2 separate regions of the Homo sapiens genome follow, and region 2 is linked to region 1. The links come from fine-mapping of genetic effects on gene expression. A gene starts in region 1. The other region holds a variant in brackets. All regions are shown on one strand. Distances are between the middles of the regions.

Region 1 (5,381 bases):
GGGAAAAAAGCTTGATCAGTATGGGAACCATTTTTGTGCAAAAGGGAATATTATGGATCAGCCAGTATTTCTTTGAGCTCTGCCTGTGGAGTCCATTTGACCTTTAGAAATATGAGGTATTCTGTCAGTTTTATCTTCTTGGAGAAATTTCTCCTAAAATCTTGATTTGCTTTAGTCTGGACTGGTTCATAGCCATCATCTTCCATCAGTACCCCAGAGATTCACTTTGTCTCTTATGTGGGATCTGTTTCCAGTTAGATGCCATTATTTTCCTTTTCCTTGGTTTACTCTTCCACATATTGGTAAAGCTCTTCCAATAGCTTTTGGAAAGGAAAAATGAAAAGTAAATGTTTTGAATCTCTGTGTGTTTGACAATGTCTTTATTTTACCCTTATACCTGATTGCTGTTTTGGTTGGCAAGGTATAGGATTCTTTAGTGGTCTCCATGCCCAGTTTTGAAGACATCTGCTAGCTTTCAGTGCTGTTGCTGTGGAGTCTGAAAATCTGTCTTCTGGCTTCCAGGGTGACTACTGGAAATTGAATGCCATTCTGTTCCTTCTCTTTTGCATATATAATCCATTTTTATCTCTCTTGAAGCTTATAGGTTTATCTTTGTCTCAATGTTCTGTCCCTGTTAAGAGTCCATTTTCATCCTTTGTACTAGGTGCCTGGTGGGATCATTCCGTCTGAAACTAATGATTTCCCATCTCTTCACTGTTTCTGGAATTCCTGTTTTCCAGATGTTAGACCTCCAGAATTTGATCTCTAATTTTCCTATCTTTTCTCTTAACTTTCAGCTCTGTCTTCTTGCTAGGACCTTTTCCTAGGAGCATTTCTCAATTTAATCTTCCAGTTCATCTGTTGCATTTTATTTTTCTAGTCTCATATTGTCTCATATTTTTAATTTCTAAGAGCTCCCCTTCTCCGAATATTCTTTTTTTTTAATAGCATCCTATTTTGGCTCATGGTTGCAGTATTTTATCTCCTTGAAGATGTTTGTGTGTTTATGTATGTATATGCACACACGTATACATACACATACAGGCATGCATCTCTGTATTCTTTCGGCATAATCTGTGTCCTCCAGGGTTTGTTTCTTTGTTTCCCCTGTATGTTTGTTTTGGTCGTTCACATTATAGGCTTTCCTCAGAGTTAATGGTCTTGGTAGTCTACTCATATTTAAGTGTGGAACACCAAAAAGCTTACTATAAGCTGAGAGTGTGGTAAAGGGCTCTTTGTTTTACTATGACCTACCTGAGCTATCTTGCTGGGGAACACCCTAATGTCAGTCTCTTTATAAAGGGCCTTTCATTTTGGCCTGGCAAGAAATACTCTTTCATCCTCCTGCATGGAGGGCAAAAAAAAATTTAAAAATTGGCTGCTAGGGTCTGTCTGCTCACTTCCCTGTTTTGCAGACCCCACACTCTTCTGCAATTCATTTCATAGTTGTCAAGACTATACAAATTGTCCTTTTTAATGTTCTCTCTTCTGCTATCCCTAGTTGGCAGTCTTCCTCTTTACAACCTGCTGAAAGTGGAAGACCTCCAGTTTTCCTTTAATTCCTCAGCAAACCACCAACTATTATATGTCTTTTTTCCAGAACAACTTATTTTTTAACTATAATTATATGCATTTATGTTAGATTCACTGAAAACCTCATCTTGTATGGTGCTCTGTACCCTATGGGTGCTAAATAAAGGCTTGCTACTGGCAACTGGATTTAGGATCGGCTAATTCTGCGTCCTTTTAAGATATGCTTATTTAAGCCAAACTCGGTATGATAATTTTTTTTTTTTTTTTTTTTTTTTTGAGAGGGAGTCTGGCTCTGTCGCCTAGGCAGGAGTGCAGTGGCGCGATCTTGGCTCACTGCAACCCCCGCCTCCCGGGTTCAAGCGATTCTCCTGCCTCAGACTCCCGAGTAGCTGGGATTACAGGCGCCCGCCACCAAGCCCGGCTAATTTTTGTATTTTTAGTAGAGACGGGGTTTCACCATGTTGACCAGGCTGGTCTCGAACTCCTGACCTCGTGATTCGCCCACCTCGGCCTCCCAAAGTCCTGGAACTACAGGCGTGAGCCACCGCGCCCACCCGGCCAGTATGATAGTTTTTAGGAGGAACCCTCAGGAGAGTGATTGTTTCTCCCGCTGTGTTGTGGGGGGTGGAGTAGGGAAGCCTGGCGTTTGGGGTTTTTTTGTTTGTTTGTTTTTTGTGTGTGTTTGTTTGTTTGTTTGTTTTGAGACGGAGTCCCGCTCTGTAGCCCAGGCTGGAGTGTAGTGGCGCGATCTCGGCTCACTGCAAGCCCCGCCTCCCGATTCAAGCGATTCTCATGCCTCAGTGTCTGGAGTAGCTGGGATTACAGGCACCCGCCACCATGCCCAGCTAATTTTTGTATTTTTAGTAGAGACGGGGTTTCACCATGTTGGTTAGGCTGGTGTTGAACTCCTGACCTCGTGATCCGCCCTCCTCGGCCTCCCAAAGTGCTGGGATTACAGGCGTGAGCCACTGCTCCCGGCGTTTGGGTTTTTTAAGCTATTCAAATTAAGACTAGACTGGAATCTGGAGCAGTGTGTGTGACAACCCCTCTCTGCACACCCAACTTTCCCCGGGCCGGCTAGTGACTCAAAGCGACAGCCCAGATTTAAGAAAACGAAACCTAGTGCAGCTGGGGCACTTCCGGGATCTCGCTATCCGGCCGCCACCCGCAGCTGCAGCACAGTCATGGCCCAGGCGTCGCCGCCCCGGCCCGAGAGGGTGCTCGGCGCCAGCAGCCCGGAGGCCCGGCCCGCGCAGGAGGCGCTCCTCCTTCCCACCGGTGTGTACCGCGGGGGCGGGCGGGCGGGCGGGCGGGGCTGGGCAGCGACGGGCCCGGTCAAGGGGCCTGCCTTCCGGTCGTGGCCGCATGGGGGCCCGACCTGCCCCTACTCCGGGCCGGGGCCCTAGACGCCGGGGCGGCGCTGGACGAACTTGGCTCACCACTCGCGTGCCTGTTGGTGGGGGAGGGGGCCAGAGGACAGGGCGCGGCCCAGGCCAGTTCCACAGGTGGCTCTGACTGCCCATGGTTTCGCGCGAGTGGTGGGCACGCTTCGGTTTACCTCCCCCGCGGGTGACAGCCCAGTGCTTCCACCACAACCGATGTCAACTCTCCTAGCGCCCCTCCGCTCACCGGTAAACCAGGACAGTGGAGGGGCGCCCTGATGCGGTGAGGCAGGGGGCGGCCCTGAGGGAAGAGCTGGGTCTCACGTTCACGGAGGACGTGACTGGAACCCGTCTCCCCTTCTCCAGTCGTTCCAGTCCTCCCCGGCCCTCTACTTGAGTGGGTGGGTCTTCTGATGGGTTCCTGCCCTTGCGTGTGTGTATAGCTCCAAACGGTGTGCCAGGCTCAGGGCAAGGTCCTGAGCATACAAAGATGAGTTAGGCAGACCCTGCCCTAGAGACTCTACTAGGCAACTTTAATGAGGAGGTCAGAACCACAGAGGTACAGATGAGAGACTCCTGACTCCCAGTCTTCAGGGAAAGCTTTTTGAGGAGAGGATGGCTGGGCTTACCCTTTTTTTTTTTTTTTTTTTTTGAGAGGAGTTTCACTCTTGTTGCCCAGGCTGGAGTGCAAAGGCGCTATCTCGGCCCACTGCAACCTCTGCCTCCCGGGTTCAAGCGATTCTCCTGCCTCAGCCTCCCGAGTGGATGGGATTACAGGCATGTGCCACCACGCCCAGCTAATTTTGTATTTTTAGTAGAGAGGGTTTCTCCATGTTTCATGGGCTTACCTTTAAAGGGCAAGACTCAGCCAAAGGTGGAAAAGTTGAAGGGGTGTTCCCAGCAGAGAGGATGACACAAAGGCACCAAACCACAAAACGTCACACGTAAACATCATACGTGGCAACCACAAGCCAATCAGTTGGATATTTCATTCATTGGTATACATATGGACTGTAAGGTAAGTCACGGGAGATGCGCTTCCATCCTGACCTCTTCCTCAAACTCCAGACTGGTATAACCAACTTCTTCCATTTCTGAAATGATCTCAAACTGAGTATGTCCCAAAGAGAATTCTTGTTTCCTCCACTGTATTCAGGTACTCCAAACCTGCTCAACCACCAGCCCATTCCATTCGCCCAGGTGCTCCTTGCAAAAACCTTAGTGGCTCCTCAGGGCCTCTCTTTCCTCCGGACACCCCTTCTAATGCATCAGTCGGGCCAGCCAGTTCTGTGTTCAGCCTGACTGTATCTGGAGCCTGACTGCTTCTCACCACTTCCATTACTGCCACCCAAGCCTACGCCATCATGATCTTCTGTCTGGACTATTGCTTTCCTGGCTTCTATTCTAGCCTTTAATACAGGCAGGCCTGCAGAGCGGCCAAAATGCTTTTTGAAAAACAAAAAGCAAATGTGATTCTCCTACTCAAAACCCACCAATAGTCTCCCATGACTCTCAGAACAATCTATGAGCCTGGCCTGCAGTTTACCCCATGTCCTTATCTGATTTGACTCCTGCCCATCTTAATGACTCTGCTACCCTGCTACCTTGTAGGTCCTCTAAGCCACCAAAGCTGTCCCTGCCTCAGGATCTTTCCATTTGCTATTCTCTGCAAGGAAAACTCATTGCCACATTATCCCATTTTCAGTTCCCCATCATATTCAGGTGTCTGCTCATATACATCTTCCCTCAACCTTGCCTGCCCATCCTGTCTAAAAGAGCACCCCTTGCCCCTGCTCCTGTCACTCTCTACCTCCTTCTGCTCTATTCTTTCTCTATAGTACTTATCACTACCTGGAAAACAAAACAAAACTTGTTTAATGCCTGTCTCTACCACTGGCCACTGGCATGTAAATTCGTCTTACTCTCTTCTATCCTTAGTGCCTAGACTGGTTGGCCTAGTAGTAGTAGTAGGACATAGTAGGTACTCATTAAATATTAAATAATAGTAAGTCCTCATTAAATATTTGTTGAAGGAATGAATGTACTTGTATATAACACTACGGAGCTTGACTTCTGTAGGTGATGGGGAAATATGAGCAGATGTCCATTTCAGGTAGATCATTCTGACAGTAACATAGTACATTTCCGGTAGATCATTCTGACAGTAACCTAGCACATTTCTGGTAAATCATTCTGACAGTAACCTAGTACATTTCCGGTAGATCATTCTGACAGTAACCTAGTACATTTCCAGTAGATCATTCTGACAGTAACCTAGTACATTTCAGATAGATCATTCTGACTGTAACCTAGTACATTTCCGTTAGATCATTCTGACAGTGACCTGGTACATTTCAGGTAGATCATTCTGACAGTAACCTAGTACATTTCAGGTAGATCATTCTGACAGTAGCATAGTGCATTTCAGGTAGATCATTCTGACAGTAACGTAATACATTTCAGATA
Region 2 (5,381 bases), 79 kb after region 1:
GAGATCATGCCACTGCACTCCAGCCTAGGCGACAGAGCGAGACTCTGTCTCAGAAAAAAAAAAAAAAATGCAGGATCCATTGCAAGGAACAGCAACATTATTTAGGACAGCTCTGATATCATGACATCTATTAAATTTGCCTAAACATGAAAGAAAAGTATTAACAGACTTATTCTAACTATGGATTTCATTTCAAAGGAATATAAATGTAGTTCAACTAAATTTCATTTAAATAATCATTCCAGGCTGGGCACGGTGGCTGACACCTGTAATCCCAGCACTTTTGGGAGGCTGAGGCAGGCAGATCAGTTGAGGTCAGGAGTTTGAGACCAGACTGGCCAACATGGCAAAACCCTGTCTCCACTAAAAATACAAAAATTACCCCGGGTGTGGTGGCGCACGCTGGTAATCTCAGCTACTCAGGAGGCTGAGGTGGGAGGATCATCTGAGCCCAGGAGGCAGAGGTTGCAGTGAGCCAAGACTATGCAACTGTCCTGAGTGATAAGAGTGAGACTCTGTCTCAAAATAATAGTAATAATAATAATCACTCCAGAGGGTTGCACAATAATTTAGATGCTTCAAATAGGAAGATATGAAGTGATTCTATTTGTGTTCTATTCCTGTATGAAGGAGGCACTGCTAATGGAAAGAACCTTCAACTGGCCTATTCAGCCCAGGCCTTCCCTGACAGTCAAGTACCTTGGTAAGTACCCTGAGCAAGGTAGCCCAACTCTCTTCCTTCCCATGGTGCTATGGTTTGTCCAAATTATAAGCACCCCCCAAGGAAGCATCCCAACAGAAGCTGCCACCCAAACACGTCATACAGCTAAACTATGTGCACATCCCAAATTCAAAACAAAACCACAAAAATAAATGTACCCTGTAAGACTTAGTTAGCTTAGCTATGTTATAAAACAATATGTCCTGTATGATTACAATTTTTCTAAAGTATAATATATACAGAAATGTATACACCAAAATATATCTCCATGGAGAGATTACAGGTGGCATCATTTTCTTTCTTTGTATTTTTATTCTATTTTTTGGCCTGCCATCCCCACTTCTTTAGTTTGTTCGTTTGTTTGTTTTCGTCAGCAGGGTTGTGGCCAGAAAACAAGTCCTATCAGTCTCCTACCTCACTTCCCCTTTAGAAATTAGATACAATTCCTCATCTTTTTTTTTTTTTTTTTGAGATGGAGTTTCGCTCTTGTTGCCCAAGCTGGAGTGCTGTGGCACGATCTTGGCTCACTGCAATCTCCGCCTCCTGGGTTCAAGCAATTCTCCTGCCTCAGCCTCCCAAGTAGCTGGGATTACAGGCGCCCACCATCACGCCCGGCTAATTTTGCATTTTTTTAGTAGAGACGGGGTTTCACCATGTTTGCCAGGCTGGTCTCAAACTCCCGACCTCAAGTGATCCACCTACCTCGGCCTCCCAAAGTGCTGGGATTACAGGCGTGAGCCACCGCACCTGGCCTTCTTTGTATTTTTAAAATATAGTCCCAAATTTCTCTCTTTTTTTTTTTTTTGAGACAGAGCCTCGCTCTGTTGTCCAGTCTGGAGTACACTGGCACCATCTTGGCTCACTGCAAACTCCCCCTCATCAGTTCAAGCAATTCTTGTGCCTCAGCCTCCCGAGTAGCTGGAATTACAGGTGTACACCACCATGCCTAGCTAATCTTTGTATTTTTAGTAGAGAAGGGGTTTCACCATGTTGGCCAGGCTGGTCTCAAACTCCTGACCTCAAGTGATCCACCCACCTGGGCCTCCCAAAGTGCTGGGATTACAGGCGTGAGCCACCACACCTGGCCTTCTTTGTATTTTTAAAATATAGTCCCAAATTTCTTTTTTTGGGGGTGGGGGGTGGACAGAGTCTCACTCTGTTGCCCAGTCTGGAGTACACTGGCACCATCTTGGCTCACTGCAACCTCCACCTCCCCAGTTCAAGCAATTCTTGTGCCTCAGCCTTCTGAGTGGCTGAGATTACAGGTGTGCACCACCACGCCTGGCTAATTTTTGTATTTTTAGTAGAGACGGGGTTTCACCATGTTAGCCAGGCTGGTCTCAAACTCCTGACCTCAGGTGATCTGCCCACCTCAGCCTCCCAAAGTGCTGGGATTAGAGGCGTGAGCCACCATGCTCGGCCAGTCCCAAATTTCTATAACAAACACTTTGTGACCAATAAAATGAACAAATATTTCCAATGAAAATAAAAGTTCAATTATTTGAATTATGTTTTACCCCTAGGCTGTTAGAAGTTTTAAGATGTATTCTTGCTTTAGATTCATAACGTAGAGTGGCAGAATGTTTCAGGCAAAATCTGGAAAAATGAATTATTAATATAAAATTAAATGTAGATGGTAGAAATGTAAGATGATACAGCTGCTATAGAAAACCAGATGGTGATTCCTTAAAAAAAAAAAAAAACATTAGAATTATATTATCTAGATAAACTCCATTTCTAGCATATACCCCAAAGAACTGAAAGCAGAGACTTGAACAGATAGTTGTATACCAACGGTCAAAGCAGCATTATTCACAATAGCCAAAATGTGAAAATAATCCAAATATCCATGAACAGATGAATGGATAAACAAAATGTGGTCTACACATACGATAGAATATTATTCACCCTTAGGAGGAAATTCTGATACATACAACAACAGGGATGAACCCTGAAGACATTATGCTAATAAGTTAGACAAATATTGCATGATTCCACTTACATGAGGTACCTAGAACAGTCAAATTCATGGAGACAAAGTAGAATTGTGGGTGCCAGGAGCTGGGGGGAGGTAGGAATGGGGAGTTACTGTTTAATGGGTACAGAGTTTCACTTTGGGGTGATGAAAAAGTTCTAGGCAACAAATATGTGAAAAAATATTCAACATCACTAATCATCAGAGAAATCCAAATCAAAACCACAATGAGATACTATCTCACACCAGTCAGAATGGCCATTATCAAAAAGTCAAAAACAAAAGATATTGGCGAGGCTGTACAGCAGAGGCAACACTATACACTGTTAGTGGGAATGTAAATTAGTTCAGCCACTGTGGAAAGCAGTTTGGAGATTTCTCAAAGAACTTAAAACAGAACTACCATTCAACCCAGGAATCCCAAGACTGGGTATACATCCAAAGGAAAATAAATTGTTCTAC[C/CA]AAAAAAAAAAAAAATGCACCTGTATGTTCATCACAGCACTATTCACAATAGCAAAGACATGGAATCAACCTAGGTGCCCGTTGACAGTAGATTGGAAAAAGAAAATGTGGTATATATACACCATGGAATACTACATGGCCATAAAGAAGAACAAAATCATGGATGCAGCTACAGGCCATTATCCTATGTGAATTAACACAGGAACAGAAAACCAAATACCACATGTTGTCACTTAGAAATGGGAACTAAATATAGGGTACACGTGGATATAAAGACAGGAACAACAGACACTGGAGACTACTACAGGGGCAGGGAGGGAGGGGTACACAGGCTAAAAAACTACCTATTGGATACTATGCTCACTACCTGGGTGACGGAATTATTCGTACTCCAAAGCTCAGCATCACACGCTATACCCATGTAACAAACCTGCATATGTACTCCCTGAATCTAAAATAAAAGTTGAAATTGGGTCAGGTGTGGTGGCTCACGCCTGTAATCCCAGCATTCTGGGAGGCCAAGACGAGCAGATCACAAGGTCAGAGATCGAGACCATCCTGGCTAACACGGTGAAACCTCGTCTCTACTAAAAATACGAAAAAATTAGCCGGGTGTGGTGGCGGGCACCAGTAGTCCCAGCTACTCGGGAGGCTGAGGAAGGAGAATGGCATGAACCTGGGAGGCGGAGCTTGCAGTGAGCCAAGATTGCACCACTGCACTCCAGCCTGGGCGACAGGCGTCGCAAAAAAAAAAAAAAAAAAAAAAAAAAAAAGTTGAGATGATTTTTTTTAAGTAGTCTAGAGATTGATGGTGGTGATGATTGTACAACAATGTGAATGTACATAATGTGACTAAAATGTGTAATTAAAAATCATTAAAATGGTAAATTTTACACTATATACCTTTTACCCCAATTTTTTAAAATCAAATAATCATCCTGTGGGCTTTTATCAAGACTGCATTAATAAACTCAAAGATACATTTCTAAAATTAAATATAGAAAGGTTTCAGTCCTAAAAAATGTGTTTGGAAAAGTAAAATCATACTGTTTTAATCATGTCTTGAGAATATAAGTTCAGATTAGGGAAATTCTCAACGGAGCATTTATAAAAGAAATATAGCCTTCTTAGAATTTTCCAGTGCATACAGCAATTTAAACCAGACCAAACAAATTGCTAAGATGACAGGTCCTTCCAGGGCTTGTCATCTTGATAATTATAAAAATGATGAGCTGTAATTAGAATGTCAGTCATCTTTAAATAGTTACTTCTGAAGTACCTCACTAAGATAGTAATTTTTTTGCAAGCCTTCCATGTTTTATTTAGGAAATACTTTCTGAAAAACAATATTAATGTGTTGCAGCCTGAATTACCACTCTTTATGAGTTATTATTAGGTGAATCAATGACTTTTTTTTTTAACTGTATAAAGATAAAACAAGGGTGCAAGGAAAGAAAAGAGGAACGCAAAAATGCAAGCAGAGGTAGAAAGAGTGTAACGTCCTTAAAGATAATATGCCAACCCACTTGGCTCTTCGTATTTTCTCTGGCACTTGAAAATACATCCTGTATCCCCACTGCACTTATCCTACGTCCATTAGTCCTACAGATCAATATCCCATTCCCTGGGATGGCTTATCCTAGCTATTGGCACTGTCCCTCAGAGAACTTGTGGCATGAGGAAGAAAAGGTTATTTTACTTTATACTCTGAAAGCAAATTCAGTCAGGACAAACACAGGCCTTCCAATTTTAGAAATCTACATTTAGAACTGGAAGGCTGAAGGAGTAATGTAGCAACTAATCTTTTAATTCCCCTAAGAGCACATTTATTTTACTTTCCCCAAGGAACAAATATTAAGGAAAGGCTAATTTTATTTTAGTTTATTTTACTGATCTAGCAAAAATATATTTCAACATGCTTATGGAGATTTTAAAAACAACAGGAAATGGAGAGAAATGGTACAGGAAAACTGGTTTTGATGAAATAATGTTCTCAATATTAAACAACAGTGGAAATTTAGGGTTGATCTGTAAGCACATGGCTTCCACACAGACCTCAACTAACCAGAATGTATTTGTTTGGGCTAGTTTAAATTGCTGTTATGTACTGGCTTTTAAATGCCACCAATAGGGTATTCTACCTTTAGATCTGGCTTCTACTGACCTTAGAGCTAAGGAAAAGAGTGGGAAAAGAGTAAGCAATCCTTCAGCATTGGCGAGCAC

Direction of the effects. Positions count from the first base shown, and alleles are read on the strand shown. Sizes are in standard deviations (SD) of each study's normalised expression.
With allele C in place of CA in region 2, the expression in subcutaneous fat of the gene that starts at base 2,669 in region 1 is higher (moderate effect, 0.43 SD a copy in FUSION).

What was found. PIP is the estimated chance that this variant, and not a neighbour inherited with it, causes the effect. A credible set is the group of variants that fine-mapping cannot tell apart.
Region 2: its variant is the best candidate, but not a certain one, in a credible set for the expression of PHF11 in subcutaneous fat (FUSION, PIP 0.85).

Annotation. Positions count from the first base shown.
Region 1 is chr13:49,493,285-49,498,665 of GRCh38, forward strand. It overlaps PHF11 (PHD finger protein 11), which reads left to right and starts at 2,669. Exons shown (of 10, transcript NM_001040443.3): 1 at 2,669-2,811. The coding sequence starts at 2,718. All of the region lies in intron 12 of SETDB2-PHF11 (SETDB2-PHF11 readthrough), which reads left to right. It overlaps SETDB2 (SET domain bifurcated histone lysine methyltransferase 2), which reads left to right. Exons shown (of 14, transcript NM_001160308.3): 14 at 1-1,719. RefSeq lists enhancers at 1,475-2,160, 2,471-2,710, 3,201-3,250 and a silencer at 2,731-3,010.
Region 2 is chr13:49,572,276-49,577,656 of GRCh38, forward strand. All of the region lies in intron 2 of RCBTB1 (RCC1 and BTB domain containing protein 1), which reads right to left. Among named protein-coding and RNA genes, the nearest start is that of RCBTB1, 11 kb to the right of the region's middle. The variant C/CA (reference allele first, on the strand shown) is at 3,159.